4 linked regions of the Homo sapiens genome follow. The protein of the gene in region 1 purifies or fractionates together with the protein of each later gene. This does not show direct contact. Each region holds a gene or a part of one and is shown in the gene's direction. Other genes may lie near its edges.

Region 1 (8,118 bases):
GCAAATTTGCCAGATTACTCCATTCCTATGGTTTCACTTACCACCTACGTATTGCAGACATTCACATCTTTATATGCTGCCTGTACCCCCTTCCTGGGCATCTGACCTCTGACAGCTTCATCTAGGTGTTCCATAGGCACTTTAACCTCATCATGTCCAAAATGAATTCTCTTTTTCCTCAAGCCAACTCTTTTTCCTGTATTTCCTAGGCCAGAAATTCAAGGACTTTTCTCTGAGTAACTGAGCAGTAATTAAGTATAATTTTTTCCTCAATAATCCAAAGCAGATTGTGAGAAAACATTGCTTTTGAATAATAAGTGAAAAAAAAAATTTAGCCATGTCTATTTATATATTTTTCTTTGATGCTATTAATATCCAGTCTGATTTTACTCGTCACTGAAATTGTATTCAGAATATATTGATGGAATCATTTCAGGTTGTTTTTTCCTCTGCCACCAGATCCTCCAAATGTACATATTATTGGAAATCTGCCTTTTAGTGTTTCAACTCCACTGATTATCAAGTGGCTTGAAAATATTTCCTGTAGAGATGGACCTTTTGTTTATGGCAGAACTCAGATGACTTTGACTTTTCAAAAGGAAGTGGCAGAGGTAAGTTTTAACATTTTGTGACTATTTTATCACATGTTCAAATTCCAAAGCAAAATAATAATACTGCATTTTTACCACAGTCTGTGTTTTCTAAGTTAATATCTTATTACACACACAAGAACCCAGCAGCAGCTCAGCCAAAAGTTAAAACTTTGATGATGATGACAGATGTAACTGCTGTGGGCTTCTGGGAAAACATGAATGATGTATGTTAGCCAAGGAGGTAGTGTGGTAAACACAGGGATGCAACAGCCATCGATGCCACTGGAGAAAGACAAAAGTGATGCCCTGTTGGCCATACCCAGGATTGGCACGTGATACCTTAAAATTGATCCTTTAGGCTTAATGGCATGGCAGTTAAAGAATATGATAATTGGCCGGGCATGGTGACTCATGCCTGTAATTCCAGCACTTTGGGAGGCCGAGGCAGGCGGATCACGAGGTCAGGAGTTTGAAACCAGCCTGGCCAACATGGTGAAACCCCGTCTCTACTAAAAATACAAAAAAAAAAAAAAAAAAAAAAAAATTAGCTGGGTGTGGTGGGGGGTGCCTGTAATCCCAGCTACTCAGGAGGCTGAGCCAGGAGAATTGCTTGAACCTGGGAGGCGGAGGTTGCAGTGAGCAAAGATCGTGCCACTGCACTCCAGCTTGGGTAACAGAGCAAGACTCTGTCTCGGCGGGGCATGCGGGAAGAATGTGATAATCAATTTGGAGCTGAGAAAGAGAAGGGGATTGAGGGTCTCATTATTCAGTATATAAATTGTACTTCCTCCCTCACCTCAGTGAAGTCTGCTATGCCTGCATTCCCATGGCAGAAGTGTTCTGGGTTCACTCTAGAAAGTAAACCCTCCAGGGTAAGCAGGGGTGGTGCTTGAGCTGCAAAGGTATAAGGACGGATGTGCAGACTCTTAAGTGGTTTTTTAAAAAAATTTTATTATGACATATAAGTACAAGAGTATACAGCCATCCCTTGGTATCCATAGGGGATTGATTCCAGAACCCCCACAAATACCAAAATCTACAAGTGCTCAAGTCCCTGATGTCAAACAGTGTAGTATTTGCATATAACCTGTGCATATCATCCCATATACTTTAAATCATCTCTACATTATTTGTAATACCTAAGACAGTATAAATGTTTTATAAATAGTTGTTACACTGTATTATTTGAGGAATAATGATAAGGGAAAAATCTGTACATGTTCAGTACAGATGCAACCATCCTTTTTTATTCCCTGAATATTTTTGATCTGGGATTGGTTGGATCCATGGATATGGAACCCACAGATACTGACGGATGACTGTATAATGTACATGGATGACTTAATAAAGGGCACTCCTGAATCCCCATGTACATGGATGACTTAATAAAGGGAACTCCTGAATCCCCACCCCCAACATGGGTAATTAAATCACTAGTACCTTTGAGACCCCATTGTATTCCTTACTCTGATTGCATCTCCTTTCCATCCCATGCTAGTAAGGTGATCACTACTGTGAATTTTGGATTTATTCCCTTGCATAGTCTTATCACACAGATTTATATTCCTATGATGAATACACTTTAGTTTTGTCCTTTTTTTTTTTTGGACAGAGTCTCACTCTGTCACCCAGGCTGGAGTGCAGTGGCACGATCTTGGCTCACTGCAAGCTCCGTCTCCCGGGTTCACGCCATTCTCCTGCCTCAGCCTCCCGAGTAGCTGGGACTACAGGCGCCCGCCACCACGCCCGGCTAATTTTTTGTATTTTTAGTAGAGACGGGGTTTCACCATGTTAGCCAGGATGGTCTCCATCTCCTGACCTCGTGATCCACCCGCCTCAGCCTCCCAAAGTGCTGGGATTACAGGCGTGAGCCACTGCGCCCAGCCCAGTTTTGTCCACTTTTGACAACTGGGTTTATATAATGTGTATTCATATAGTATGTATTGTTTTTATCCTGAACATTCTTTGTAGGATTCACTGACGTTGCTTATGACTGTAGTTTATTTAGGTAGCTATATATACTACCCACTATTTGACTGTGTAAGATCCTTATCTATTCATTCTCATGTTGGTGGACCATGAATTAGTTTCATCGTTCTGTTTTTACAAACAAAACTGTTGTAAACATCCCATACTGTGTCAGTTGGGGCACATGGGCAACATTTCTCTAGGGTATTTACCTGGGAGTGGAACTGCAAATCTTCACCACTGCATAGATAATGCTAAGTTGATCTCTGAAATCATCACGCCTGTTTATATTCCCACCAGCAGTGTGTATGAGTTCATTTTGCTCCATATTCTTGCCAGTACTCACTATTGCCAGACTTGTACATTTTTATTAATCTCAGGGTAATGGAATGTCATTGTGTTTTCTTTTGTCCTTGCTGGTTTGTAGCAAAATGGGGCACTATTGTGTGTTTACTGGCCTTTTTGAGTTCCTTGTTTTTAGTGCATGCTTTTTGCTCACCTTTCTTTTGGGTTGCTTATCTTTTTCCTACTGATCTGGAGGAGTTCTCACATACTCTTTAATACTCTTCATACTAGTCCTTAGTTAAATGTGTTGAGCATTTCTTCTACTCTATTGCATGTTGTTATTTTCTTTTTATGGTGTCTTTTGAAGAGCAAGCATTCTTAATTTTAAATTTATGTCTAGTGCTTTTTGTGTTTTGTTGAGGAAACACTTTTATCTTGAGTTCATGAAGATATTCTTCTGTTATCTTCTAGAAGCTTTATGTTTACCTTTCACATTTATATCTATAGTCCACTCGGGTTTGATCTCTGTGTATAGTGAAGTAGAAGCAATTTTACTATTTTTAACATATGGGTCCCAACTAACCTAGCTCCATTTACTCACAAGTCAGCCCTCGTTGATCCCTGTCAGCACCTCTGTCAGCATTGGTCTGGTTAGATACATCATATAAGCATTGGTCTGATTAGAAACATCAAGAAAAAAATGACATGAAATCCAGGAAGCAGAGGGCTCCCTACAGGACAGAGAGAAAGGAGTCCTCAGGAAGAACAACCAGTCCAGATTGGAGCCAATTAAAAGGGGAATTTGATAAAACTACTGTCAAGTTTGCATAGAGTCAAAAAAAAGTTGCAAAAACTCAGGAGAGTTTAAGATTGAATTCATGATAAATAAATAGAAAACTAAATATAACAGGGAGTGAATCAAGGGAAATATACCATTATTGGAATGAGAAGTACAAAAATATTATTTGGAGATAAATAATTATTTTGAAAACCTAAGAAAAAATGAGAGACATATATAAAAATAACTACAAAACCTAACTGAGAATCTCAAGGTCACTGAGATAAATCCAGAAAAATATCATAGCCCCAGAAGGAAAAATGATTATTTTAAAGAAGCTGATTTTTCCAAGAATTCTGTATATCTAATTATAATCCTCAAAGAACTTATCTTGAAATACGCAGTTCTAAGGATCATCTGGAGGAATAGACCTGCAACAATACATAAGAAATGTTGAAAAGGGAGAGTGATGAGAAAAGACTTCCTTGTCATATGCTAAAATGTATGGTGAAGCTTTAATAATTAAAGCAGTATGAGAAGCAGCACGTGACAGAGCAATTACTAGACTAGAAAGCCCGATGCAGACACCTTAGCAGTATCTGATAATGGTCAGATCAAAAATCAGCAGTGAAGGAAAGAATTAAGTAAATGCATGGATATTTGGTTAACTATTATGAAAAAAAATTATCTCTAAATTCCATTTGGGTCTTTGGATCTTCTCTTTCTGTCCTCATTACATTCATGCCTTCCTTGGCATTTTTCTATGTATGTATGTATGTATGATATTTAAAGTAGATGTTTTGGCCAGGCGTGCTGGCTCACACCTGTAATCTCAACACTTTGGGAGGCTAAGGTGGGAGGATTGCTTGAGCCCAGAGTTCGAGACCAGCCTGGGTAACATAGCTCCCTATGTTACCTTGTCTCTACAAAAAATAAATAAAAAATTAGCCAGGTCCGGTGCTGCATGCCTGTGGTCTCGACTACTCAGGAGGCTGAGGTGGGAGGATCACCTGAGCCCAGGAGATCAAATTACAGTGAGCCGTGATCATGTCACTGCACTCCAGCCTGGGCGGCAGAGCAAGACCCTGTCTCAAAAAATTGAACAAATAAGTAGCTGTTTTAAGATCCTTGCCTGCTAATTTCATTACCTCTATCATTTCTGTACTCTTTTAGTGATTGATTTCCCCTTCTTGCTATAGGTTGCATTTTTCTGTTTCTTTGAAAGCCTGATAATTTCTGACAAAACATCAGGTATTGTGAGAGTTTTATTTTTTTTAATGCTGATGAGGGCTGGATTTTGTGGTATTGGGTTGAGTGTTGGGTTTGTTGTGACACATAGATAAGATTGCTTGAGGCTTTTATTGTTCTGGTGGATCCAGGGTAGCTTTTAATTTGGGGCTCGTTGAGCCCCAGTACTACATCATGCCCTTTCTGAGGAAGGCACCCAACGCCCTGCATGTTACAAGGCCTCTTGAGCCATGTGAGCCCCAGTTGCTCCTGCCTTCCCCTGGTTCTAGTTCAGGCTCCCAAGCCTCAGGCACCTGCAGATCAGTGCTCAGCAGGGGACTTGGGGGACCCTTGGGACCCTTTTGCTACCTCAGGAGCTCTGCCTCACATTCTCTCTCCCTCTCCTGTTCCTGTCTCCCCCACCCGCTGCTCCTGCACACGTGTGAGCACCGCGTGTGTGCGTTTTCCATGTCTCTGGTAGTCTGCCCCACAAATTCTGCCTGCCGAGGCCTCCCAGATCTCCAGGTCTGGCTCCCTGAGCCCAGGAGACCTCTAGGCTCAGTTTGAGCTGCCCCCTGCCTCTGCTGCAGCCTGAGAAGGGCCTCCAGTCCTCTTCAGGCCGGGCATCTAAGGCTCATCTCCTTTCCATTTCAGTAATGACAGTCCTGCTCCACCTGTTGTCCTGTTTATGCAAACTCTTGTTTCCTATGACTTATTCAGCTTTATACTTGTTTCAGAACAAAACTTTTTAATGCCAGAATTTGTTTGAAATCAATAGACTCTACTACTACATAAGCTTAATTCTTTAAATGCCTTCCTCTCAGATAATTTGAGTGTATCATAAGAATTTCATTTCTTAGATCTATCCCTCTCTTTTTACCCTTGTTTCTGTTTAGGGGAATCATTTCCAACAAGGGCACTTTTGCCTTATCTGCTCCTCAGGGGCATTTGGCAATGTCTGACATGTTTTTGGTTGTCACACCAGGGAGGGGGCTCTGGTCTCTAGTGGATAGAAGGTTAGGGATGCTGGGAAGCATTCTTCAGTGCACAGCAGAGCCTCCCACAGCGAAGAACCACCCAACATTAATCAGCCCAAGATGTCAGTCATGCCAAGGTTGGAAAACTTTCCTTTAGATGATTTGGCCATAAAATCTTTCTCTCAGGAGTCTTGGAACTTCCCATCATAAAAACGTAGGACCGTTGCATGTTTGTTAGGAACCCTGAGATGATATCACCACTTTTCTTAAGGTCTTTGTCATTTCCTCTTCATGAACCTGCTAATTCTCTTGGGTTGGTTTGAATTGGGCCCATGCTGAGTTTTCTTTGTTGTTTTTCTCAACCTTTGGATATGTTGGTTCTGACAGAAACCATTCTTGTTTCCTCTGCACTTATACAACTTCTGACACCAGATGTGTGGGTTTTTTCCACACCAAGCAATCTCCAATTCTCCGAACACCAGCTGGGTATCCTGCAGTTTCATTCAATTCTGACACTGTCCACATGTTTTTAGTGTTAGATCCCACAAGTTAAGGGCCAAGTCCCACAAGACTGCGCCTCACTTCAGATGACAGTCACAAATCTGGGCCTCTAGGAGTTCTGAGCGACCAGCTATAAAATAAATCAGAGGGTTCCATGTCCCCCTCCTCAGATTGAATCATTTTTCAGAATGGCTCAAAAACTCAGGGAAACACCTTACCTACACTTGAGTAATGGGTAATCAATTGGTCTCAGTGACCAGCCCCATCTTGAGCTACCTAGAGGCCTCATCCTAAGTTATCTCATTACTGTAAACTCTGGGGGACTTGTGAATTTAAAGCAAGACATGCCGATTACTCAGGAAATTTCAAGGGCTTTAGGAGCCAGCGACAAAGTCCAAATATATTTCTTATTAAACCACATCTGTGGATTTATTTTTCTCAGCCGACATGATTATTTTGGTATTTCTGCTCTTGAATAACACAATAGAGATACAAAATACTATGTACTCTATTTGTGTGGGGGGAAACACAAAGAAACAGAGGCTTAAGAAGAGGTGGAGTAATATTTTCGGTGACTCAGCATGTCAGTTGTGGTTATTAATAATAGTGTTGCTTCGACTTCACCATATGCAATTCTTTTTCTTTAACAAAAAAAGTTGATTTTAGTTCAATTTTAGCATGAATATTGAGAAGAGTTTATATAGAGTCTATAATTTATGGAATGCCTTAGAAGTCTAGGTAACACTGGTCCTCTGATTTTCACATTTTGCAAGTGAAAGTTTCAGTGGGAGAATATATATATACTATATTAGTCCATTCTTTTCTTTTTTTTTTTTTTTTTTTTTTGAGGCCGAGTCTCGCCGCTCTGTCACCCAGGCTGGAGTGCAGTGGTGCCATCTCGGCTCGCTGCAAGCCCCGCCTCCCGGGTTCATGCCATTCAACTGCCTCAGCCTCCCAAGTAGCTGGGACTACAGGCGCCCACCACCACGCCTGGCTAATTTTTTGCATTTTTAGTAGAGACGGGGTTTCACCATGTTAGCCAGGATGGTCTCGATCTCCTGACCTCGTGATCCACACGCCTCAGCCTCCTAAAGTGCTGGGATTACAGGCGTGAGCCACCACGCCCAGCCCCTATGTTAGTCCATTCTATGCACTGCTATAAAGAGATACCTGAGACTGGGTAATTTATTTTAAAAAAAAGGTTTAATTGGCTCACATTTCTGCAACTCTACAGGAAGCATGGCTGGGGAAGCCTCAGGAAACTTATAATCATGGCAGAAGGCAAAGGGGAAGCAGGCATGGTTTATGTGGCTGGAGCAGTAGGAAGAGAGTGGGGAGGTGCTACACACTTTACAACAAGCAGTTCTCATGAGAACTCACTCACTGTCGTGCAAGAGGGAAATCTGCCCCCTTGATCCAATCACCTTTCACCAGGCCCCTCCTCCAACATTGGGGATTACAATTTGGCGAGATTTGGGCAGGGACAGTAATTCGCACCATTTCATATAGCAGCATTTTCTTATATGCCATTTACTCTTGACATGGCTGTATATGTAATTTTGTATTTTAGCCACAGGAAGCTCTTTTTAACATTTACTTTGATTGGCTTTGTTAATTACAAAACAGAAATAAATGAGCACCGTCGTCTTATTCCTGTCTCTAGCACTACAGGATCTAAGTGTAAGAATTCAGCTCATATGCATTAAGGGACATATAGACAATATGAAGTTACAGTTCATAAAATATAATCAGACTGTTAAGCAGTAAGTGAGAACTAATCCCATCTAAC
Region 2 (8,118 bases), on another chromosome or scaffold:
AGGGGCTCACAGAGATCCTCACTGAGGCCACAGACTTGAAGAAGTTGAATTGCTTTTGAGAACCCTTAAAAATCTCCAAGTAGACCCAGCTTCACTGAAATGCAATCTCAGAATTATGCTCACCTAACCTCCCTTTCTTTGGTTATAGGTTTTTCTCTATAGGCTGAGCTTTTGTCCTGACTAATAATTATAACTCAGGAGTGCCAAAGTCCTCCAGGCCACGCATACCATGAGAGCATTCTATCTCCTACCTCTCCCACTAGATTTTTCCATCCCAGCATCCACCTGCCCTTATTACTGCATGTTCCAAGTTGAAAGCTAAATCCTTGTCTTTTTCACATGCTCAGGTTATGGCCTACTCACTTTAATCCTCAAAAGCTGCCTGTTCTCCTCAAGACAGGGACTTGCCTTTCAAAGCTGAATACTTCAGTGCTGCTACTACTGCCCCACAATCTGTAACTGCCATGAATTCATTCCCAGTACAGTGACTTCTGAAATAGCCCCCTTTATCTCGTCACGACTAGGGCTCAGCCCTCACTTTCATCTCATTAACTCCTGACTTTCTGGGGTTTTAACCTCTGCTAATTGCAATTAGTCAAGAGTGAAAGTTCTTTGATGTTTATTTCATTGTTTTCTTGATAATTTTTGCTTCTCTATTTTGGACCAAGAAGTAGACTACACTATTAGTAATACTATTATCCTTTTTGTGTTTACTGACAACTGTGTTTTGGAAGCCTTCAAAGGTAGGGTGAAAAATCACTCATAATTTTTTTTTTTTGAGATGGAGTCTCGCTCTGTTGCCTAGGTTAGAGTGCAGTGGCATGATCTCGGCTCACTGCAAGCTCTACCTCCCAGGTTCATGCCATTCTTCAGCCTCAGCCTCCCAAGTAGCTGGGACTACAGGTGCCCACCACCATGCCCAGCTAATTTTTTTGTATTTTTTAGTAGAAACGGGGTTTCACTGTGTTAGCCAGGATGGTCTCAAACTCCTGACCTCGTGATCCACCTGCCTCGGCCTCCCAAAGTGTTAGGAATACAGGCATAAGCCACCACGCCGGCCAAAACCTTTTTTTTTAAATAGAGATGGCTTCTCACTATATTGCTCAGGCTGGTCTTGAACTCCTGGCCTTAAGTGATACTCCCATCTCAGCTTCCCAGAGTGCTGGGATTACAGGCATGAGCCACCACACCTGGCCACTCATAATTACACCTTTTTATCACACCCACATCTAGTTATTCATGGTATGAAACAGCAGAATGTGGACTTTGAAGTCACAGAGTCCCAGGTTTAAAGCCTGGCACTGTTACTGTTTATATGACTTTTTTGTGTCTGAACTGCCTAACCTATAAAATGATAATAATACTGTCTACTTCATCGGTTGTGAGGATACAATAATGTGTATTAAAAACACAGGACATAGGCCGGGCATGGTGGCTCATGCCTGTTGTAATCCCAGCACTTTGGGAGGCTGAGGTGGGCAGATCACTTGAAGTCAGGAGTTCAAGACCAGCCTGGTCAACACGGTGAAACCCAATCTCTACTAAAAATAACAAAAATTAGCTGGGTGTGGTGGCACGAGCCTGTAGTCCCAGCTTCTTGGGAGACTGAGGCAAGAGAATCGCTTGAACCCGGGAGCTGGAGGTTGCAGTGAGCTGAGATCGCACCATTGTACACCAGCCTGGGGGACAGAGCAAGACCTCGTCTCAAAAAAAAAAAAAAAAAAACCAATTTTATAAGGTCACAGACTTCTCTTCCCACAAATGGGAAAATTCTCTGCATTATGCCTTGTCCCTGAAATTTCATACTCGAGATTATTTTCCATATTCACTTTCAGCTTTTGCCACATACTTTGTTTTTATATAGTTGTGATCATAATGCAGGTACCCTTTATATCCCGCTTTTACTTTTCATTTAATTTTACAGCTTAAGCACATTTCCATGTTATTACACAACTTTATAACTATATTTCTGAAATTAAACACTTTTTAATGTAAAGTAATATAATCATGTTGTAAGAGATAAGGAAAACATGGATAAATGGAAAGAAAAGTTACCCATAATTTTACCATTCACAGATAAACACTGTTAACATTTTGGTTTCTCCTATAATCTGTTTCTCCTATAATCTTATTGTTATATGTATCTTTGTATATCTGTGTGTATATTCGTTTTGTGTATATCTAGGTTAACTCCGTGTATATGTGCATATAAACATAGACTACTTTAAATAACTTTCATGTTTTTATAAAAACAATGCATACTCATTATGAATAATTCCACTTCAAACAATTGCAAAAGATACAAAGAAGAAAGTAAAATATCACCTAAATCCTACACCAAGAGAGAAATACTGTTAATATGTTGGTGATGTTTTAAAATACCAGTATGCACATATGGATTACACGTGTGGGGTTTTTAAAATTTTTTTATTTATTTTTATTTATTTATTTATTTATTTATTTATTTATTTTGAGATGAAGTCTTGCTCTGTCACCCAGGCTGGAGTGCAGTGGCACGATCTCGGCTCACTGCAACCTCCGCCTCCTGGGTTCAAGCGATTCTTCTGCCTCAGCCTCCCAAGTAGCTGGGACTACAGGCGCGTGCCACCGCGCCTGGCCAATTTTTGTGTTTTTATTAGAGACGGGGTTTCACTATGTTGCCCAGGCTGGTCTTGAACTCCTGGCCTCAAACAATGATCTTACCGTATGGTATGTACAATTGCCTTTTTTGTTTGTTTGTTTTTTGTTTTTTTTTTTTTTTGAGATGGAGTCTCCCTCTTTTGCCCAAGCTGGAGTGAAATGGCGCAATCTCAGCTCACTGCAACCTCTGCCCCACCAGGTTCAAGCAATTCTCCTGCTTCCACCTGCTGAATAGCTGGGATTACAGGTGCCCACCACCATACCCGGCTAATGTTGTTTTTTTGTTTTTTTGAGATGGAGTTTTGCTGTCGCCTAGACTGGAGTGCAGTGGTGCAACCTTGACTCACTGCAACCTCCACCCTCTGGGTTCAAGCAATTCTCTTGACTCAGCCTCCTGAGTAGCTGGGACTACCGGCACCTGCCACCACGCCCAGTTAATTTTTGCATTTTTAATAGAGACAGGGTTTCAACATATTGCTCAGGCTGGTCTTGAATTCCTGACCTCAGGTGATCCACCCACCTCAGCCTCCCAAAGTTCTGGGATTACAGACATGAGCCACCGTGCCCTGCCTAATTTTTGTATTACTAGCGATGGGGTTTCGGCATGTTGGCCAGGCAGATCTCTAACTCCTGATCTCAGGTGATTCACCCGCTTCTGCCTCCCAAAGTGCTAGGATTACAGACATGAGCCACCGCACCTGGCCATACAATTGCCTTCTATATGTTTTTTATTTAATATGACATTTGTATTTCCCCATGTTATTAAAAAATTCTTTATAAGCATTTTTAGTGACTGCATCGTACTACATTTAATATTCGTCTAATGCTGAACATTTAATCTCCCCACCCCCCACTTTTTGGTGTTACAGATAACACTACAGTGAACATCTCTGTAGAACACTTTATTACATTTCAGGTTATTTTCTGAGAACAGACTCTATATCCCTCATTTTATTGGATGCGCATTAAATGGTTCTAGACTTACTTACACTTTCACTTCTGATGCTTCTGTTCAGTATCTCAAAGAATGACCGTTCTCTCTTAACAACCATTATACCTCTTTTCTGATGTTAAAAATCTACATTCATTACAGAAAAGTTGGAAAATAGTAGGCCGGGTGCTCACGCCTGTAATTCCAGCACTTTGGGAGGCTGAGGCGGGTGGATCACCTGAGGTCAGGAGTTTGAGACCAGCCTGACCAACATGGAGAAACCCCATCTCTACTAAAAATACAAAATTAGCTGGGCATGGTGGCGTATGCCTGTAATCCCATCTACTTCGGAGACTGAAGCAGGAGAATCGCTTGAACCCCAGAGGCAGAGGTTGCAGTGAGTCAAGATCGTGCCATTGCACTCCAGCCTGGGCAACAAGAGCAAAACTCCATCTCAAAAAGAAAAAAAAGAAAGGAAAAGTCGGAAAATAGTGAAACACACTCTACTCTCTGTGCTTTTGATCTTTTTTCCATGCTGTCACCTATGCGTTTGTTGTTGTTCTATAAAATTGAGGACATAAGAAGCAGATTGATGTGTAACTTGTTTTTTTCTTTTTTTTTCTTTTTTTTTTTTTTTGAGACAGAATTTCACTCTTTTCGCTCAGAGTGGAGTGCAATGGCGCAATCTCAGCTTACTGCAGCCTCCGCCCACCTGTTCAAGCAGTTCTCCTGCCTCAGCCTCCTGAGTAGCTGGGATTACAGGCATGCACTACCACACCCAGCTAATTTTGTATTTTTTTAGTAGAGACTGAGTTTCACCATGTTGGCCAGGCTGGTCTCAGAACTCCTGAGTCAGATTATCTGCCTGCCTCAACCTCCCAAAGTGCTGGGATTACAGGCACAAGCCATTGCGCCTGGCCTGTAACTTGCTTTTTTTACACTCAACACCACAAACAGAATATTTTCTCATATTATAAAATATTCTACAACATGTACATTACTTTTTTGATGACTTGCTGAAACAAAATCAACAAGCAGAGAAACTGAAATTCCCTATACTAGAAAAACCATTGTGGGAAAGGCCAGCAAATTTCTTCTGGCTTGCCCAAAATCCTCAAAACTTCCCCAGTTGAAGTGATACAGGTATGGAAGAGCATCTGAGACATATCATCTGTGAGTCCTGCTGAGCCCCATCAGTCCTCCACCACTGGTGGGGGCTTCTGGGCCCCACATTTTTAAAGCAGTAGTTGCTAGGTTGACACCATTTCAGCCACATGGACTTGTTAGTGAGTCGTGGCATCCGCTTTATGAGGCAGCAGCGCAGCCTAGAGTCAACATCAAGCCATATGTTGATGCACAAGAGGCTCGCATGTATGCCTATACCAGGCTCTGATTCACTGAATTCATTGGCCAGAATCAGGGATGTTTTCTGAAGGCGTAAGTAAGAGCTATAGCCTTCAGGTCTTCTTGCCACACTGGCAGCCTGGCATAGCAAAGAGAGCACAGGCTTTAGGGTCACAGACCTGGCTTCACTCACTGGCTGGGTCACCTTGGGCAAGCCACTTCACTCATCTGAGCCTCAGTTTTTCTGAATAATGTGGCAAAGTGATACCTACCTCATTGGGGTAGTTCTGAGGACCAAAGGAGAAAATATATGTAGAAAACACATCACTAATTTTTTTTTTTTTGAGGTGGAGTTTCGCTCTTGTCGCCCAGGCTGGAGTGCAGTGGCGCAATCTCGGCTCGCTGCAACCTCCGCCTCCTGGGTTGAAGTGATTCTCCTACCTCAGCCTCCCAAGTAGCTGGGATTACAGGCACACGCCACCATGCCCAGCTAATTTTTGAATTTTTAGGAGAGACAGGGTTTCACCATGTTGGCCAGGATGGCCTCAATCTCTTGACCTCGTGATCCGCCTGCCTTGGCCTCCTGAAGTGCTAGGATTACAGATGTGAGCAAAACGCATAACTAAATGTTAATGGTCCTCTTTTCTCTCTACTCAGCCTATAATATGCAATGTAGCCTAAAAGGCATCCCTAGTATGGTTACCTTTTCTGAATGACCTTGTATGAGCTCCAGGAACTCAAGCCTCAATTTCTGTATCTGTGCATTTGTTCCCAGCTCTGCAACTGTATTACTTTAAGGATGAGAATAAAACTCCCAAACTTCGTGTCCCACTTGCTGTGAAGTTCTGGGAAGTACTGAGGTATCCCTGCAAGAGTGCAAGTGTGCATCTCTAGTCTATTGTAACTTGGCAGCCTGACAGGAGAAGCTCAGGGCCTCCTAAGAATATGAGAACCACCAGGATTTGTGGGCTTAAAGTAGTTAAAGCCGCTGAATGAAATAGCCAGTCTTTGGGCTCCCTCAAATCTTCCCAGGTTTCCCAATTAGAGAATGCATTCACCTGTGTGACTCACACAGGCAGTGCCACATCTGCAGTAGGATTAACTGGTGTCACAGCCCTTTCTATTCAGCATACTCAAAAGCCTGACACCTTCTGGGTTTTTTCATTGTTTCTGTTTGAACTCTCTCACTGCAGCTCTGTCAAAACGCCTTACAAATCCTTTCCTTGTGGCCTCCACCTTAGCCTTGCACCAGAATAGAGAGATGATAGACCCAGACAAGTTCTGCAGCCTCTGCCATGCAACTTTCAACGACCCTGTCATGGCTCAACAACATTATGTGGGCAAGAAACACAGAAAACAGGAGACCAAGCTCAAACTAATGGCACGCTATGGGCGGCTGGCGGACCCTGCTGTCACTGACTTTCCAGGTGAGGGGGCCTAGCTCACACCCAGAGCTGGACCAGGGTTTGGCCACTGGGGCTACCCGGACCAGCTGACGTTGTGCTTTTCCTCCTTAGGTCTTGTAAGTAGGGTTTGCGAACTCAGATGGCTACAGAAGCCAGATGAGAAATTAAAATGAGAGCCAGGAAGGGGATATGGTCAGCTGAAGAGTGAATGCCATTCCTACTCAGCTGTTACCATATCTTTCAGGTTTTCTTTTCTTTTTTTTTTTTTTTTTTTTTTGAGACAGAGTCTTGCTCTGTCACCCAGGCTGGAGTGCAGTGGCGCGATCTCGGCTTACTGCAAGCTCCACCTCCCAGGTTCATGCCATCCTTCTGCCTCAGCCTCCTGAGTAGCTGGGACTACAGGTGCCTGACACCATGCCCAGCTAATTTTTTTGTATTTTTAGTAGAGACGGGGTTTCACCATGTTAGCCAGGATGGTCTCGATCTCCTGACCTTGTGATCCGCCCACCTCGGCCTCCCAAAGTGCTAGAATTACAGGCGTGAGCCACCGCGCCCAGCCCTCTTTCAGGTTTTCAAAAGACTCTGGAAAGCCAGATTTATATAGAAATCCCTCTGTTTTTGTTTTTGCGTTTGTGTTTTTTGAGATGGAGTCTCCCTCTGTCACCCAGGCTGGAGTGCAGCGGCGCAATCTCAGCTCACTGCAGCCTCCACCTCCTGGGTTCAAGCGATTTTCCTGCCTCAGCCTCCCGAGTAGCTGGGGCTACAGGCACACACCACCACGCCCGGCTAATTTTTGTATTTTTAGTAGAGACAAGGTTTCACCATGTTGGGCAGGATGGTCTCGATTTCCTGACCTCGTGATCCGTCCGCCTCGGCCTCCCAAAGTGCTGAGATTACAGGCGTGAGCCACTGCACCCGGCCCCTCTGATTTTTAAATGTGTAACTAAATTAAAAAATTTTTAAGCCCAGCCAGGCATAGTGGCTTATGCTGTAATCCAAACACTTTGGGATGCCAAGGTAGGAGGATCACTTGAGCCTAAGAGTTCAAGACCAGCCTGGCCAACATGGTGAGATCCCATCTCTACTAAAAATTTTAAATATTAGCTGGGCATGTGGCGCATGTCTGTAGTCCCAGCACCTTGGGAAGGCTGAGGTGGGAGGATAACTTGAGCCCAGGAGGTCAAGGCTAAAGTGAGATATGATTGTGCCACTGTATTCCAACCTGAGTGAGAGCGAGAACATGTATCAAAAAAACAATTTTTTTTTTTTTTTGAGACAGTCTCACTCTGTCTCCCAGGCTGGAGTACAATGACACCATCTCACCTCACTGCAACGTCTGCCTCCTGTGTTCAAGCGATTCTTATGCCTCAGCCTCCTGAGTAGCTGGGATTACAGTTATGTGCCACCCCACATGGCTAATTTCCGGCTAATTTTTTTTGTATTTTTAGTAGAGACAAGAGTTTCACCGTGTTGGCCAGGTTGGTCTCGAACTCCTGACCTCAAGTGATCCACCCGCCATGACCTCCCAAAGTGGTGGGATTAGAGGCATTAGCCACCAAGCCCAGCCAAAAAAAAAAAAAACTATTTTTAAACCCTGTGTAAGTCAGACCTGTCTGCAAGCCAGATTTGGGCCAAGGACCCTTAGCGGATTAGATCAGAATCTCATGTTCTGATAGTTCTTACTTTGTACCTCCACAAAGGTGAACCCCTGAGAGAGAAAAGGTTGCTTCCTATCAGCAGAATTTAGACCCCTACATTAAAGTTTTGCCTCCCCCATTCTTTGGTTGTGGTTATGTT
Region 3 (8,118 bases), on another chromosome or scaffold:
CTCAAGTGATCCTCCCACCTCCGCCTCTGCCTCCTGAGCAGCAGCAGGCGCCCTCTGGCAAAACCACTTTTAATTCCAGAATTTCAGGCTCCCTTTTCTCTATCATATCTGTGTGCTTTTTCAATAAAAATTAATTTGCTTCTAATTGAAAACTAAAAATTGTATATATTTATGGCATATAGCATAATATGCTTTGTAGTATTACAAACATTGTTAAATGGCTAAATTGAGCTAATATTCATATGCCCTACCTCATGTACTAACCATTTTTGGTTTTGAGAATACTTGAAATCTAATTTTTTTTAAGCAGTTTCCAAGTATACAATACATTGTTATGAACTGAAGTCACCATGTTGGACAATTGCTCTTTTGAATTGATTTCTTCAATTGAAATTTGTACTCTTTGACCTATATCTTCCCAACCCCTACCCCAGCCCTGGTAACTATTCTACTCACTACTACTATGAGTTCCACTGGGTTTTTAATTATTATTTATGTTATTTACTTCTTTTTAAATTTTTTTTTGTAATTTGAACTTGTGTTTTAGATTCAGTGGGTACCTGTGCAGATTTGTTGCATGAGTATATTGAGTGATGCTGAGGTGTGAGGTATGACTCTACCCATCACCCAGGATATGAGGATAGTACCCAATAGGTAGTTTTTCAACCCTCCCTCCCTCTATCCCTCCAGAGTTTCACTGTTTTGGAGTCCACGTCCTGATTTCCTTTCCTCTGTGTACCTGCCCCGGAGCGGGATTGCCGGATCATGCAGTTGTTGGACTTTCAATTTTCTGAGGAGCTTCTATACTGTCTCCCATATCGGCTGCTCTAATTTACATCCCAGCACAGGGCGCAGAGGACCCCTTTCCCCCAAATCCTCACCAACACTCGTTCCATGTGTCTTTTTGGGAACAGCCACTCTAGCAGGCGTGAGGGGTGCCTTGTGGTTTGGATTTGCATGTCCCTGATGATGAGTGATAATGAGCACCTTTTCCTAGACCTGCTGGCCATTCACATGTCTTCATCTGAGATGTCCACACAGGCGCCTTAAGCCCTTCTAGTGGGTTATGTGTTTTCTCGCTCTGGAGGAGTTTGAGTTGCTTATGTTTTGCACAGGAGCCCCGTGAGATGTGTGGTGTGTAAATATTGTCTCCTCCTCTGGGTTGTCTCCCGCCTCTGCCGATTGTCTCCCTGGCTGTCTCTCTGTTCTGCACTTGCTCAAAGTCCTTCCAGGAAGTGTGGGGCACTCGCCCTCCAGGCTACCAGTGACTTTTCCCAAGACCCTTCTGCCAGTTTTTTCTCCCCTCTGCAGACCTTCAGGTTGCTTCCCCCACCTGTGTCTAGGAAAGCAGGGCTGTGTTCTCATAGCTGTTGAACTTGGACGATAATTGATGCCTGGAGAGTATCACTCAGTGGCTCCTGCCTAATGAAGCTAGGTTTAGGAATTAATTTTTAAAAATCTTATTATTGTATCAACCCACTTCTTTAAAATATCAAAGAGCACTAGACTTTAAATCCATTTTCTGAGATGAGATTAGGAATACAGAAACCCTTAGAGACAGAAGGTAGATTAGTGATTGCTAGGGGCTGGGGTGGGTGGGCAGGGGGTGATCACTGATGGGGATGGGGTTGCTTTTGGGTTGATGAGATAATTCTGGAAGTAAACAGTGGTAATGGTTGTACAACATGGTGCATGTCTTAGTCCCATAAAATCGTGAACTTGAAGAGAGTAAAAAATGATGAAATTTATGAATGTACATTTTACCAAAATAACAAAATATCTGTGTAGGTGCTTAATCCTCATAGGATCCTTTAATGCTGTCCCTTCCCTGGAGCAAGTAAATGTTCTGGAGTTAACAAGAATATGTGTTGGGGAAAATATTACATTCTAACTCTTTTTCTCTATCCTTTTGCATAATTATGACTAAGGGCTTTGCCTTGGATCTTGTCCTGATGGGGAAACATAAAGGGCTTACTTTATTGTTGCATCACATTTTCAGAGCTTCACCTAACTATCTTATTTAATTTATAGTCAAGAACAATGTTGTTCCAATTGACAGGAAAACTGATTCAGCCTCTGCACAGTGATTTCCTAGAGATCAGAATCCAGGGGTCATTAAGATTTTAAACCAGAGTATGTAGTCAGGTATAGACACTGGAAGATTTCCACTGTGCTGAATTCGATGCTGCTGAAGAAGTGGCATCCAGGATGAGGGATTTCGAAGGGAGGGATGGATGGAGTAGTAACTTAAACTAATGAGGCTCATACTTTTCCCCCCCAGACTTCTGAATGAACAGTGAATCTATTACTGAGGAAAACCAGAGGAAGCCTGTGTAGATAGGTATCAATTAGATACCAGCTACTGGAAGAGCTTTCTCAGAGACTGATTAAAAAATTCTCCACTAGATATGGCTGCAAATTGCACATCCTCATGGAGTCTAGGAGAATCCTGCAACAGACCTGGGTTGGAGCTGCCACGGTCTATGGCATCCTCAGAAACTCAACTTGGAAATCACGACGTGGACCCTGAGATTTCTCACGTGAACTTCAGGATGTTCAGCTGCCCGAAGGAGTCGGACCCCATCCAGGCTCTGAGGAAACTCACTGAGCTGTGCCATCTGTGGCTGAGGCCCGACCTCCACACCAAAGAGCAGATCCTGGACATGCTGGTGATGGAGCAGTTCATGATCTCCATGCCCCAGGAGCTCCAGGTCTTAGTCATGATGAACGGTGTGCAGAGCTGCAAAGACCTGGAGGACCTGCTACGAAATAACAGAAGACCCAAGAAATGGGTGAGTGGGACCCTCGTGATTGGTGCAGGGAAGGGGAGCTGGGATGGGGGCTGCACGGTGCAGCTGGACTCGAGAGGACCCGAGGGGCTGCTCTAGGTCAGGGCTTCCAAGTAGAGGAGAGTTTGCCCGTCGGGGACACATGGCAGTGTCTGGGGACAGTTTTTGTTGTCAGGGAGGACAGGAGACGCTGCTAAGCGTTCTCTAACGCTCAGGACAACCCATCATGACAAATAATCATCCAGATTCCAATATCAGCTGTGCTGAGACGGCAAGTTCCTGGTGTAGGAGATGGACAGGCAGAGGGGGTACAGGGACCCACACACTGTGTGAGGCCAACATGAAAGAAAGACATTGGTGAAATATTAGGCCTGATGGAATGTAGGGAAGGAGGCATTAGAGTGAACTGAAGGGGGGCCCAGGAGTCCCATCCTGAAGCAGGGAAAGTGGTTGGTATCAGATGCAGGGATCTGCCCCCAGGTCCCCAAATGAGCCCCTAAGTTCTAATACAAGGTGAGCTGCCATCGGCCAATTGAGTTGGATTCACCCAGAATATTTCTCCTTGTCTTCTCTTTGGTTTAGAGACTATTTCATCTAAAGGACCCATGTTTATGTACTTAACTAGAATATTCCAGGCGCAGGCAGGTGCTGGAGTCTAGAGAGGAAAAAATTCAGACAGGATTGCTGTGTCCACAGAGCTGACTCTCTATTGGGAAGGCAGATTTGAACATTAATTACAGTAAAGTGTGAGCATTATGGCAGGACCCAGGGAATATGAGAGCTACTTTCAGGTTCTCATGGTGAGTCTGATTGTCTTTTTTCTCTCTACAGTCTGTGGTCACCTTCCACGGAAAGGAATATATTGTGCAGGACTCAGATATCGAGATGGCTGAAGCCCCCTCCAGTGTCAGAGATGATCTGAAAGACGTGTCCAGCCAACGGGCCTCCTCGGTGAACCAGATGCGTCCAGGGGAAGGCCAGGCCCACCGAGAGCTGCAGATCCTGCCCAGGGTCCCTGCATTGTCCAGGAGGCAGGTGAGTGTGTGAGGCCTTGGTGTCTGGGCAGAGGTGGGAGAAGGAACAGGAGGAAATCGTGTGGCCGCTGGACTGATTGAGAGATTTGACACAGGACAAGATTAGAGCCATTCCCCATGGACATGATACATCCCCAAACATTCATTCCTGAGCCATCACAGAGAGGGAAGCCTCATCTACTTTTCTCTCCACCATGAGAGCTTTTAGCATTTAGGGTGGGGCATAAGAAATGATCTCAGTGAAATGAGGGAGGCAGTTTGCACAGATGAATGAAGATTCCTTCCCCGTAGCCAGTTTCCTCAAAGACATTTAATGTAATAATTCAGCAAGGAAACCATTTTCTACAGATTGTCAATTTCTTAATTTGAGGAGTGTTTCTCAACTGGGGTGATTCTGCCTTTCCGGACACATGGCCATGTCTGGAGATGCTTTTGTGTGTCATTGTAGGGGATGGTGGGGTGTTAATAGCATCTAGAGGGTGGAGGTGGGGTCTCTGCTCTGCACAGGAGCGCCCCCTCCAGCAGGGTGATGCAGCCCCAATGCCAGTGGTGCCACAGCTGAGGGGCCTCGACTAGAGTCATGCTCCTTCCAGTGTCAGGTGCAGGGAGACGTTGGCACGGCGGGGAGAAATATGCTCAGAGAACCAAACAGTGAAAACCACCAGGCACAGGAGCTGATTTGGAATATGGAGGGTGCAGATTAGGGACAGACACAGAAATGAGATGGTGATGTTTACGTGGGGTGATGGGGTGGTCCAGGGGAAGTCTGCACGTATTTCCACACCTGTGTCATTAGAAGAGTTGTTGCATCCAATCAGAAGGGGACAGATGTGTCCCTGCTTCCACCAGTTTGGACACAGCAGTCATTACTCTTGGTTTTTCCTCTTCAGGGAGAGGACTTTCTGCTACACAAGAGTATTGACGTAACAGGTGACCCAAAGTCTCTGAGACCCAAGCAGACCTTGGAGAAGGATCTGAAGGAAAACAGGGAAGAGAACCCAGGACTGACATCCCCAGAGCCTCAGCTTCCAAAGAGTCCCAGTGAGTATGAAGACTTGGATCCACAGGGGTTAGTCCCTCTCTTCTGGGGTGCGGGGCTGGGGGCCCAGCATTATCATCCCCTGGGGGAGTTGGCACTCAGCTGTCAAAGCCTCCCCATCCTCTACTTTCCAGAGACCTACAGTCCAATGTCTTAGGCTTGAGCTTGAGCGGAAGTTGTCAGCCAACATCAGTGTTTGGTTGCAATGAGTTTGGTGTATTGAAAATGCGCTTTATTAACTGTGTGTGTGGAATCCCTTCTTCCAGCAGATCTGGTGAGAGCAAAGGAGGGGAAGGACCCCCCAAAAATAGCCTCTGTGGAAAATGTGGATGCTGACACACCTTCTGCCTGCGTTGTGGAGAGAGAAGCTTCGACTCACAGCGGGAACAGAGGAGACGCTCTGAATCTGAGCAGTCCCAAAAGAAGCAAACCAGATGCCTCCTCCATTTCCCAAGAAGAGCCTCAAGGAGAAGCCACACCTGTGGGCAACAGAGAATCCCCGGGACAAGCTGGGATGAATTCAATTCATTCCCCAGGCCCTGCGAGCCCAGTCAGTCACCCGGATGGCCAAGAAGCCAAGGCACTGCCGCCCTTTGCATGTGACGTGTGCGAGAAGAGGTTTACGTGTAATTCCAAGCTAGTCATCCACAAGAGATCACACACAGGCGAGAGACTCTTTCAATGTAATCTCTGTGGGAAGCGCTTCATGCAGCTTATTAGCCTCCAATTTCACCAGCGAACCCACACTGGCGAGAGGCCCTACACGTGTGACGTCTGCCAGAAGCAGTTCACCCAGAAGTCCTACTTGAAGTGTCACAAGAGAAGCCACACAGGGGAGAAGCCCTTCGAATGTAAAGACTGCAAGAAAGTTTTCACCTACAGGGGGAGCCTGAAGGAGCACCAGCGCATCCACTCCGGAGAGAAACCCTACAAATGTTCCAAGTGTCCAAGAGCCTTCAGTCGGCTGAAATTGTTAAGACGCCACCAGAAAACACATCCAGAAGCTACTTCTCAGTGATTGCATAATCCGGTCTATGCCTTCTGCACCAAGAAGAAGTGAATGATATTTTTCATCAATGTTATCAGATGACATTTGACACATGCAAGGGCGTCTGACACACAGAGGGAGTGCCCTAGATATGAATTGCCAGGATGTTTGAGTAAATATGTGTCCTCCCCACTGAGCTTTGTTTTCTGTTTCATTATGTCCATTGTTTTCTTATAGGTTTATTTTGGTTTGTGTTGCTGTTCTTCCAATAAACGATCATCTTATTAGTTTTCAATATTGTATAACGGAAAACTGAGTTTCCTGATTGACATGGGGTTACCCACTGTTTTGCTGTAAAGTACAGTTGTCCAAGGAGGGTGGCCATATAAAATACATAATGCCTGATGAAATTTGAGTTTCAGATAAACAATTTTCTTTAGTATCAGCATGTTCTAAATTATTTATTTATCTGAAACTCAGCTTTTATTGGGTATCCTGTAGAGTTTTCGTTTTCTTTTTTCTTTCTTTCTTTTTTTTTTTTTTTGAGATGGCGTCTCCCTCTGTCACGCAGGCTGAGGTTCAGTGGCATAATCACCGCTCACTGCAGCCGCGACCTTCCAGGCTCAAGCAATCCTCCCATCTAAGCCTCCCGAGCAGCCGAGACTACAGGAGCACGCCACCAACTTGGCTAATTTTTGTGGTTTTTGTAGAGATGGAATTTTGATATGTTGCCCAGGCTGGTCTTGAACTCCGAAGTACAAGTGATCCAACTGCCTCGGCCTCCTTAAGTGCTGGCATTACAGGCATGAGCCGCTGTGCCCTGTATTGTTTTTATTAGACTTTATTATAATTATGATATTCAAATTTTTGAAATAATTTTTTGTAGTGATGGGATTTCTTGTTGCCCAGGCTGGTGTGGGGTGAGCCACCACGCCTGGCTCTAGACTTTCTTTTTCAGAGCTGTTTAGGTTCACAGGGAAATTCAGTGGACAGCACAGAGTTCCCCTAGACTCCCTCCTCACACAACACAGCCTCTCCCTGCCCAGCATCCCCAGCAGAGTGGTGCACCTGTTCCATCAGTGAGGCTGCCTGGACATATCACCACCACCCAGAGTCCATAGTGTTCATTAGGGCTCGCTCTGGGTGTTGTACGTGCTGTGGGTTTGGACAAAGGCCTCATGAGTACACACCACTGGAGTATCCTGGGGGGTATTTTCACTGCCCCCGGAATCCTCTCTGCTCTGCATATTTATCTCCCTGCCCCAGATGGTGTATTTTGTGGCCTAAATTTGGCAACCTCTAAATTCCCGATTTGACTCTTGAACTACAGAGGCATTGGGAGTCTCTGGTGACTAGTTGGTCTTAGTGATACTACCATCCCCTGAAGGCGTGGTTAATCCTCAGGTGGGTGGGCCCCAGACTCAGCTTCTGATTGAGCAGACCGGGCATGGGGCCTGAGAGTGTGCATTAAAATATATAATTCATTTTAGAATAGCTTTCTAAAGTCCATGGAGCTCCCTAATGCCCCACATGGCTTCCCCCATTGCCAACATGGTTCATTAGGATGGCACCTTTGAACTGACTGGAGCGATGAACTGACTGGATATATTGCCGTGATCTAAGGCCCATACCTTATTGAGGCCTCCTTAGTGTTTACACAATGCCCTCCTCTTCCTTCCTCCCCATCCAAGACACCACATTGCCTTGAGTTGTCACGTCTCCCTAGGATCCTCTTGGTGACAATTTCTCAGATTTTACTTGTTTGGGATTACCTGAGAATGTACATTTTAGGTGGTGCTCATGCTGCTGGTCTTGGGAGGACATTTTATGGATGGCTGATTGAGCTGACGGGCAGAGTCCTGCAATCTGCAGAGGTCTGGAAAGGTCCCTTCCCAAATAGGCTGGATTCATTTATTAAAGACTACTTTTGTAAGACTTTGGTTCTTGTCATCTTAATTTAAAGGAATTTAATCAAGAGACCCACAGCAGAGAGATGCATCATAGAATAATTGATTACAGAGGAAATACAATATCTTGAAAGTTAAGGGCAGAATAGACAGGACATCCTGGGAGCAAGGATTCAGGGCCAGCTGCTCCCAAGGATGAGACAGCAAAGACCTGCTTGAGGGAGACTCCCCTTTATGGGAGTCTTGGATGATTACACCTAGGGGGGTGGGAAGAGGTGTTACTACTAAGCATATTCTGGGTGCTCTTCTGGGCACACAGGTGCAGTAGCTGTGCACATGTCTCATTAGCGTCTTAACTGCC
Region 4 (8,118 bases), on another chromosome or scaffold:
TTCTCTATAATGATTTCTTTTGTGGAAATAAATCACAGTAGTTAATGTTTATTAAATGTCTGCTACCTGCCAGGTACTGTTCAAGCACCTTACATGTATTAACCCATTTAATTCTGACAGCAGCCCTATAAGTAGGTACTATTACTACACCCATCACAGGAAAACGAAATGGTGGGGGGATGGTGAAGAACATGCCCCAAAGTCACCACACAAGGGACTCCAGGCCAGGCAGCATGACCCCAAAGCCCTACATCCTTATGCCCACGTGGTAAGAGCAAGGAGCTGGTAGCTTTCCGATGATTCTCAGATGATACTCAGCTTAATGTTTGTGTAGGCAAATTTTTATTTTCAAAACTTATTTGTCTCACTACTTTATCCAACTATGACAAATGAAAGAATATGAGACTGAGCCACAGAACTCTGTACTTTAAGCTGTCTTGTCACAAAGTATTAAATAAGATAAATTTGGTGGTTTCTCTGAAGCCCTTACTGTTCATTTATCCATCTCACCATCCATCATACTTTGCCCGATTTATTTGACTGGCATTGCCAATTTGGACTTGGAATGGAGTAAGTAATTCAAGTCAAAATTCTCATGCTTTGATAGAAATGTGTGTGGAAATATGCATAGACCACCAGTGTACAGACATTTACTCCAACTGATTCTGAGATGTCAGAAGGGTTAGATACACTGACCACATTTATTCACTCAAAGTTACAACACATGATCTGGCCAAAGATTTAGGGGTTGTTTCTGGATATGAAAGGCGGTCCTGATGATAAGAGTTTAGATGCCCAAATTTGGGATATTTCTATGACAACAGGATAAAAGCAGCACAAGATAAAATCAAACCTACCCTGGAACCCAGGCCCCATGCTGGCTGGGCTGGCACTGCCAATTTTATATATATATATATATACACACACACAGAATTTTGTAACTTGTATTTTGCGCTCCTGCCTTCACTGCTCAATAAGACCATTAAAATTAAATAGTGGTGGTGGACCACAAAAAGGCAAACCCCAATAGCTTATACAATATGCAACATAAACTTTTAGGTCAGGTGGTAATTCACTGGGTTGCTCATCCCGAGTGGTAAACTTCCAAATTGAGCTTTCTTGCAGAATTTCAATGAAGTGATCATTGACTTAAGTCCCCCGTCCCCCCACCACCCCGCCAACAACCCTATCACGACTAAACTGAATTTTCACCTCAGCTGTTCCATAGTAAACAATGTAGATTATTGTTTTGGGGTGAAGAAAAGGCAGTCCTAGATATAAAATCAAGCAGATTTTTTCAGGTCCAGTTTTTCTTTTCTGTGGTTATCCTGGGTGAAGAAATAGCAACTTCAAAGGACAGATCCTGTGAATGTGACTTATTTATCCTGGTTGCTCTATCTCTGTGAATGTAAGTGACAGGTGGGGCTCAGAGGGAGTCTGTTTTGAGCATCTTATAGGTTGGAGAGGACCTCAGAGGTGAGCTGGTGCAATGGTTCTCAGGTGGGGCTCCACAGAACCCAGTGCTCCTTGGAGGCCCAAGGCAGGAAAGGTGGCGACCAAGCTGTTGAAGTTCCCAGGCACTTGCCCACTCCAGCCAGGACAGCTCCCCTTGCATCTGTTTTATATATTAGAGTATAATTTCTTTTTTTTTTTTTTGAGACAGAGTCTCACTCTGTCACCCAGGCTGGAGTGCAGTGGCGTGGTCTTGGCTCACTGCAACCTCTGCCTCCTAGGTTCATGATTTTCCTGCCTCAACCTCCTAAGTAGCTGGGATTACAGACGTGCGCCACCACACCTGGCTAATTTTTGTGTTTTTAGTAGAGACAGAGTTTCACCATGTTGGCCAGGCTGGTCTCGAACTCCTGACCTCAAGTGATCCTCCCGCCTCGGCCTCCCAAAGTGTTGGGATTACAGGCGTGAGCCACCGCGCCTGGCCTCCTACAAATTTTTGTTCAAGCAAAAGGGGAACCCTACGAGGTCTACTGATTTGCCTACAGGCCACAGCTAGTCACAGCCAAACTGGAGGCTCCCTCCCCGTGGTCCACCGCACCTTCCATTCTACCACCTTGATGCCCCCTTGAACTTTGGCAGGTTTCACCCACAGAGGGGATGGTGTGGTGTGGCCAGTGGCTGGTTACACCCACAGAGAGGATGGTGTGGTGTGGTGTGGCCAGTGGTAGCCCTTAGCTGAAGCAGCTGATACAATGTGCCGGGGCCCAGGAGCTACAGGGGACCCACACGTGCATAACCAGGGAGCAACACTGCCTGTCAAGAGCACAGAACATAGAACTGCAGCAAAAGACCCAAGCCACTTGTCCCCACAGTGCAGCCACTGCCTGAGGACTGACAGCAGGGCCAGGTGCGGTGGTTCACGACTATAATCCCAGCAGTTTGGGAGGCTGAGGTGGGCGGATCACTTGAGGTCAGGAGTTGGAGACCAGTCTGGCCCACATGCTGAAAACCCATCTCTACTAAAAACACAAAAATTAGGGGGGCACAGTGGTGGGCGCCTATAATTCCAGCTATTTGGGAGGCTGAGGCAGGAGAATCTCCTGAACCAGGGAGGCAGAAGTTGCAGTGAGCCAAGATTGCACCACTGCACTCCAGCCTGGGCGACAGAGCCAGACTCTCTTAAAAAAAAAAGAAAGAAAAAGAAAAAAGGACAGACAGCAAGAAAAAATGGGTAGGGAGGTGCAGGCAGAGAAAGGGATGGAGGAAGAGGGGTTCCAGAGCAGTCTGTTGTTCTAGCTTTGAGAGCAGACAACTGGCCCCACTGATGAACTCAGTTGCTCAGCAAACATGGATGTCTCTGGAAGCCCCTGGTGGATCAGGCACACCAAGGCATACAGTCCACCTGCTGTCTGGTACTGGAACACTCACCCTAGCCCCTAACGGTGCGCCTGCACACCTCTACTCCCATTTGGGAATCTCATCTTGGCTCAGACAAAGCCAGTGCCCTGCTCAGAGAAGTAAAGAATGTGCTGCTTATAACAATAAACTGCATTACTAATTTGGATCTGTTAGATTTGCAGAAAACAAGATAGTTTAACCACTGTTATACTTGATAAAGAACTTATTTAAATTAAAAGAAAATCTTGGTCAAGCTGGTCTCAGTGGCTCATGCCTGTAATCTCAGCACTTTGGGAGGCTAAGTTGGGAGGACTATTTGAACTTAGGATGTCAAGGCCGCAGTGAGCTGATTGGGCCACTGCACTCCAGCCTGGGTGACAGAGACTCTGTCTAAAAAAAAAAAAAAGAAAAAAGAAATATTGGTTTAAAGAAACCAGACTACTTTGTCTTTTTATGAAGGCCATCAGCATGTTAAATAAAGTTTATCCTTTCTCCCCAAAAGCAATTCATTCAATAAGGGCATGTGCTAAGGGGTTTTTCTTTCTTTCCTCTCCTCCCTTCTGAGATCCCAGTATAATTTTAAATATTGTTTATGGAAATCCCACTGCTCCTATTTGTCAAGCCTCAAAGAACAAAAAGACAAGAAGAGACCAGGCTGGACCCAGTGAGGGTGTTTTTGTTTTGTTTTCTGTGGATGAATAGATTCAGGAAGGCAAACTGGTTCATTTTCTGGTTGGCTTTCTTTAGGAATGCATTGCTAACTCAGATTCAAAGAAAACTAAAATTATTTTCATTCATTTCTCATCCAAGTACCACAGGTGGCCAAACGTATTTATATTAGAAAATAGCATAAGGCCAATAATAAAGAAACAAGCTACATTATAGATCAACAACTTCTGCATTTCTCTTTTTTAAAATAACCACAGCTCAGGTTCAACAGAGACAACAAAACATGTTAAAATGTCTTAGTATCCTGCAGTAGCAGCAGATATCCTAAATCTACCCCTTAAATGCCCCTACCCCTTGTCCCCAGCTCCTCTAGAGTGACCACACATGCTCTGCCTCTGAATGACAAAGAATGTGCCGGCAGTTGAACTTCCCACTACACGACGTGACTTGAAATACTTTTTTAAAAGGGAATGATTTGTTATCCAATAGTATAATTTAAATAAATTGGATTAATGCTTGGTTCTAACATTCATGGTTGGTTAATTTGGTTAATTTGATCTGCGTGCCATTTTGATGAAATTGCATTTGATATAGCCCTTTACGTTATAAATTGTTAATGTGCTGTAACATATATGACGATAAAATTATTGACTATTCTCATTCACTTAAAGGTGGCCTTGAAAGAAAATGGTTTGGAAAGTATTATACTATAATGATTTGCCCTTGGAGTTCATAAATGGAAGTGTAATAGAGCCAGTGATTTAGCTCTTATTACTGAAAATGATTTTTACAGCTACAAAATAATGCTAACAAACTATTATTATTTTAATACAGTACTTAGGGTAACACACCAAAATACAGTCAAACTCTATTAGGTGGGAAGCTAAGATTTTTTTCATACCCTTTAAAATATATTTCAATGTATAGTTAATATATTTATATTGAATCCCCTCATTTCCTACCTAGTTTTGTTTTATTTCATCTCAATGTATTCTCCCAAAGGATTATTCTGAACTGACAAAGATGCTTCATTGCAGTGTCTCCATCACTTTTCATAATATTTGCAATATAAAATATTCTGAAGCACAATACCACAGATTAGGGAAATATCATAGAGGATAAAAATGAATAAATTGAATAAATTTCAGCAATTTTAAAACAGTACATGAGTCCATTAGGGATGACACTGTGAATTTCATGTTCATGAAAACAATGTTTAAAGTTTTTTTTAAATTTCAATTCCATCATTAAAAGCTCTAAGATCTCTTATTTCTAGATTTAAAATAATGTATGATGAAAGCATTTTGATTTGCATACTTCTGAAGAGAATGATCTCGAAAGAGTGCTTTAAAAATAAGCCGTCTCGTGAGTCTAGATCCTTTGTCAAGGTGATTCATCGGTGTGACCGAACCCCACCTGTGACACCCTGGCCTATAATTATAGCTCCCAATCCTCAAATTACTGACTGCTGTCTCTTTTTCAAAGCCTCGTTGTAGAAGCTTGACTGTAGAAAAAAATGGTCATTTAAGTCAGGATGCTGTTGTATGTTCTCACCCATAAGTGGAAGCTAAACTGTAAGGGTACAAAGGCATCAGAATGACATAATAGACTTTGGGTACTCAGGGGAAAGGTGGGAAGAGGGTGAGGGATAAAAGACTACAAATCAGGTTCAGTACACCAAAATCTCACAAATCACCACTGAAGAACTTACTCATGTAACCAAATACCACCAATAAAAAATTTAACAAAAACTAAATAAATAAATAAATAAATCAGGATGCTGGAGCTGTCTAATGGCCCACCTTGCTGGCTGGCAGAGGGTTTGTTGCAGCCCTCCACAGTTTACAAAAAAAAAAATTAAAATGTGGAAAAGTTGAGGTGTAAAATGTGGCTCAACGTATATCAGCTCCTTATACTTGATAAAGAAATTATTTGAATAAAAAGAAAATATTGGTCTAAAGAAACCGGACTATTTTGTCTTTTGATGAAGGCCATCAGGGTGTTAAATAAAGTTTCCTGTTTCTCACCAAAAGCAACTCATTCAATAAGGGCACATGCTAAGGGGTTTCCTTTCTTTCCTCTCCTCCCATCTGGGATCACAGTATAATTTTAAATATTGTTTATGGGAACCTCATATGCTGCAATTGTGCAAATACAGACACACTGAGTTTGATTCTATTCTATTCAGGAGGCTTTATCGTCTCTTGATGCAAAATTTTATATTCTTCAATTATCTCAAGACCGGTTAGTTTTCAGTGACTCACCTGGTGATGAATGTGATCTTAATTTTTTAACACGACATTATTACTCAATTATAAAACAGTTGAGCTGTTTCTCCTCAGCAGCATACTCATTTCTAGGCTGATCCACAAATGACGTTTGTTAAAATGTTAAAGTCAAATGACATTTTCAGTTTCCAGTTCAAAATGATGGACTGAGCACATGTGCTTTCCTTCAAACCCCTCCTCTCCAGAGCCACAGAAATAATGGTAAAGAAGTACAAATAAAATAAACAATAACAAAGGGGTAGGGGCTGGTGTGGTTAGTCAACAGCAGACGGGAGATTGCAAGAAATTTCCAGAAGACTGAAAGTACATAAGAACATATGCACGTCACAGGGGAAGCCACAACTGAGAGTAAAAGCAAGAGGGAACTGCGGCGAAGGTGGGGAGCGTGATAAGTGGGGACTCATTGAAGGCCTGTTTCCAGGACAGCTCGGTGAATTATCCTTTCTCCCTCCTTTACTACTAGAAGAGTTTCCAGCAATTTGGTGTTTAGCCCTTAAGCTAACAATCTGAGAGTTCTTCTCTAAAGCAATCAAACAACTACAAGAGGCTGGGCATGGTGGCTTATGCCTGTAATCCCAGTATTTTGGGAGGCCGAGGCAGGCAGATCACCTGAAGTCAGGAGTTCGAGACCAGCCTGTCTAACATGGTGAAACCCTGTCTCTACTAAAAATACAAAAATTAGCCAGGTGTGGTGGAAGGCTCCTGTAATCCCAGCTACTCAGGAAGCTGAGGCAGGGAGAATTGTTTGAACCCGGGGGACAGAGGTTGCAATGAGCCAAGATTGCGCCACTGCACTCCAACCTGGGTGACAGAACAAGACTCCATCTAAAAAAAGATTAAAAAACTACAAGGCACACGTAGAATTTCTAGGATAAATATCACACCACAAAATAAACCTCCCTGCTCATTCTGGCATTTGGGGGTTCTCAGTTCCTAACTGGACACCCTAAAGCCATGCCTGCTGATGTGGTTTGGCTGTGTCCTCATCCACATCTCAACTTGAATTGTGTCTCCCAGAATTCCCACATGTTGTGGGAGCGACTCAGGGGGAAGTAACTGAATCATGGGAGCTGGACTTTCCTGTGCTATTCTCCTGATAGTGAATAAGTCTCACGAGATCTGATGGGTTTATCAGGGGTTTCTGCTTTTCCTTCCTCCTCATTTTTTTCTTGCTGCTGCCATGTAAGAAGTGGTTTTTGCCTCCCGCCCTGATTCTGAGGCCTCCCCAGCTATGTGGAACTGTTAAGTCTAACGAAAACTCTTTTTGTTCCCAGTTTTGCATGTGTCTTTATCAGCAGTGTGAAAATGAACTAATACAACTAGTTCCTAACTGGACACCTAAAGCCATGCCTGCTAATTGAATGCATGCCCTGCACACACACCCGGAGATCCCAAACAGGAAGCATGCCCACCAACCAATGGTTGAAGAATTCAAGAAAGCTCTTCTATCTGCCTATAATCATCAATCTTGTCCTTCATTCTTTTTTTTTTTCTTTTTTTTTTTTGAGACAGAGTCTCACTTTCTCGCCCAGGCTGGAGTGCTTGAAAAAGGATCGTTGCAGTGGCAGGACCTTGGCTCACTGCAACCTCTACCTCCCAGGTTCAAGTGATTCTCCTGCCTCAGCCTCTCGAGTAGCTGGGATTACAGGTACAGCCTCTCTAGTAGCTGGGATTACAGGCACGCACCACCACGCTCAGCTAATTTTTGTATTTTTAGTAGAGGCAGGGTTTCACCATGTTGGCCAGGCTGGTCTCGAACTCCTGACCTTAAGTGATCTGCCCACCTCGGCCTCCCAAAGTGCTGGGATTATAAGCGTAAGCCACCGCGCCCGGCCTTGTCCTTCATTCTTAAATACAAACGCATAACCAAAGATCACCAGACATTTAAGAAAAGCCTACATGGAAGTGAAAGATGAAAATCAATCAATAAATAAATAGAACAACTGCCTGATAAAATAATTTAGAGGACAGAAGATAAATTTAACACATTCTAATTAGTTTCAGAGAGATTTGAAGACATGGTGCATTCATTAAAGTACAGGATGCTATAAAAAAGGAATAACCTGAGAACAAAAAGAGCTCTTGGAAATTAAAAATATGATTACCAAAATTAGATAAAGACTGAAGAAAAAATAGAAGAAAAAAGATAAGAGACTTGGACTATTAATCCAGGAGATCCAATACCTGGTTTACAGGAATCTCAGTAAGAGACAAAGAAAGGGGGTATTGGGAGAAATAAAGAAATTGGCAGTGGGTTGAGGGGGGAGGGATAATCAAAGACATAATAGAAAAAAAATCCATGTTATAAAAG

Evidence for each region.
Region 2: the proteins of TFB1M (region 1) and ZNF346 purify together in Homo sapiens (co-immunoprecipitation; one large-scale study listed by IntAct). This does not show direct contact.
Region 3: the proteins of TFB1M (region 1) and ZSCAN5A purify together in Homo sapiens (co-immunoprecipitation; one large-scale study listed by IntAct). This does not show direct contact.
Region 4: the proteins of TFB1M (region 1) and MACROH2A2 purify together in Homo sapiens (co-immunoprecipitation; one large-scale study listed by IntAct). This does not show direct contact.

What each region holds. Positions count from the first base shown.
Region 1 is NC_000006.12:155,289,446-155,297,563, reverse strand, and holds part of TFB1M (dimethyladenosine transferase 1, mitochondrial), read left to right. Parts: intron 1-459; coding exon 460-611; intron 612-8,118. UniProt on the Homo sapiens protein: Mitochondrial methyltransferase which uses S-adenosyl methionine to dimethylate two highly conserved adjacent adenosine residues (A1583 and A1584) within the loop of helix 45 at the 3-prime end of 12S rRNA, thereby regulating the assembly or stability of the small subunit of the mitochondrial ribosome.
Region 2 is NC_000005.10:177,044,595-177,052,712, forward strand, and holds part of ZNF346 (zinc finger protein 346), read left to right. Parts: intron 1-6,108; coding exon of another isoform or gene 6,109-6,156; coding exon 6,157-6,342; intron 6,343-8,118.
Region 3 is NC_000019.10:56,219,337-56,227,454, reverse strand, and holds the end of ZSCAN5A (zinc finger and SCAN domain-containing protein 5A), read left to right. Parts: intron 1-2,281; 5' UTR 2,282-2,408; coding exon 2,409-2,792; intron 2,793-3,620; coding exon 3,621-3,824; intron 3,825-4,713; coding exon 4,714-4,864; intron 4,865-5,128; coding exon 5,129-5,880; 3' UTR 5,881-6,152; downstream 6,153-8,118.
Region 4 is NC_000010.11:70,057,735-70,065,852, forward strand, and holds part of MACROH2A2 (core histone macro-H2A.2), read left to right. Parts: intron 1-8,118. UniProt on the Homo sapiens protein: Variant histone H2A which replaces conventional H2A in a subset of nucleosomes where it represses transcription. Nucleosomes wrap and compact DNA into chromatin, limiting DNA accessibility to the cellular machineries which require DNA as a template.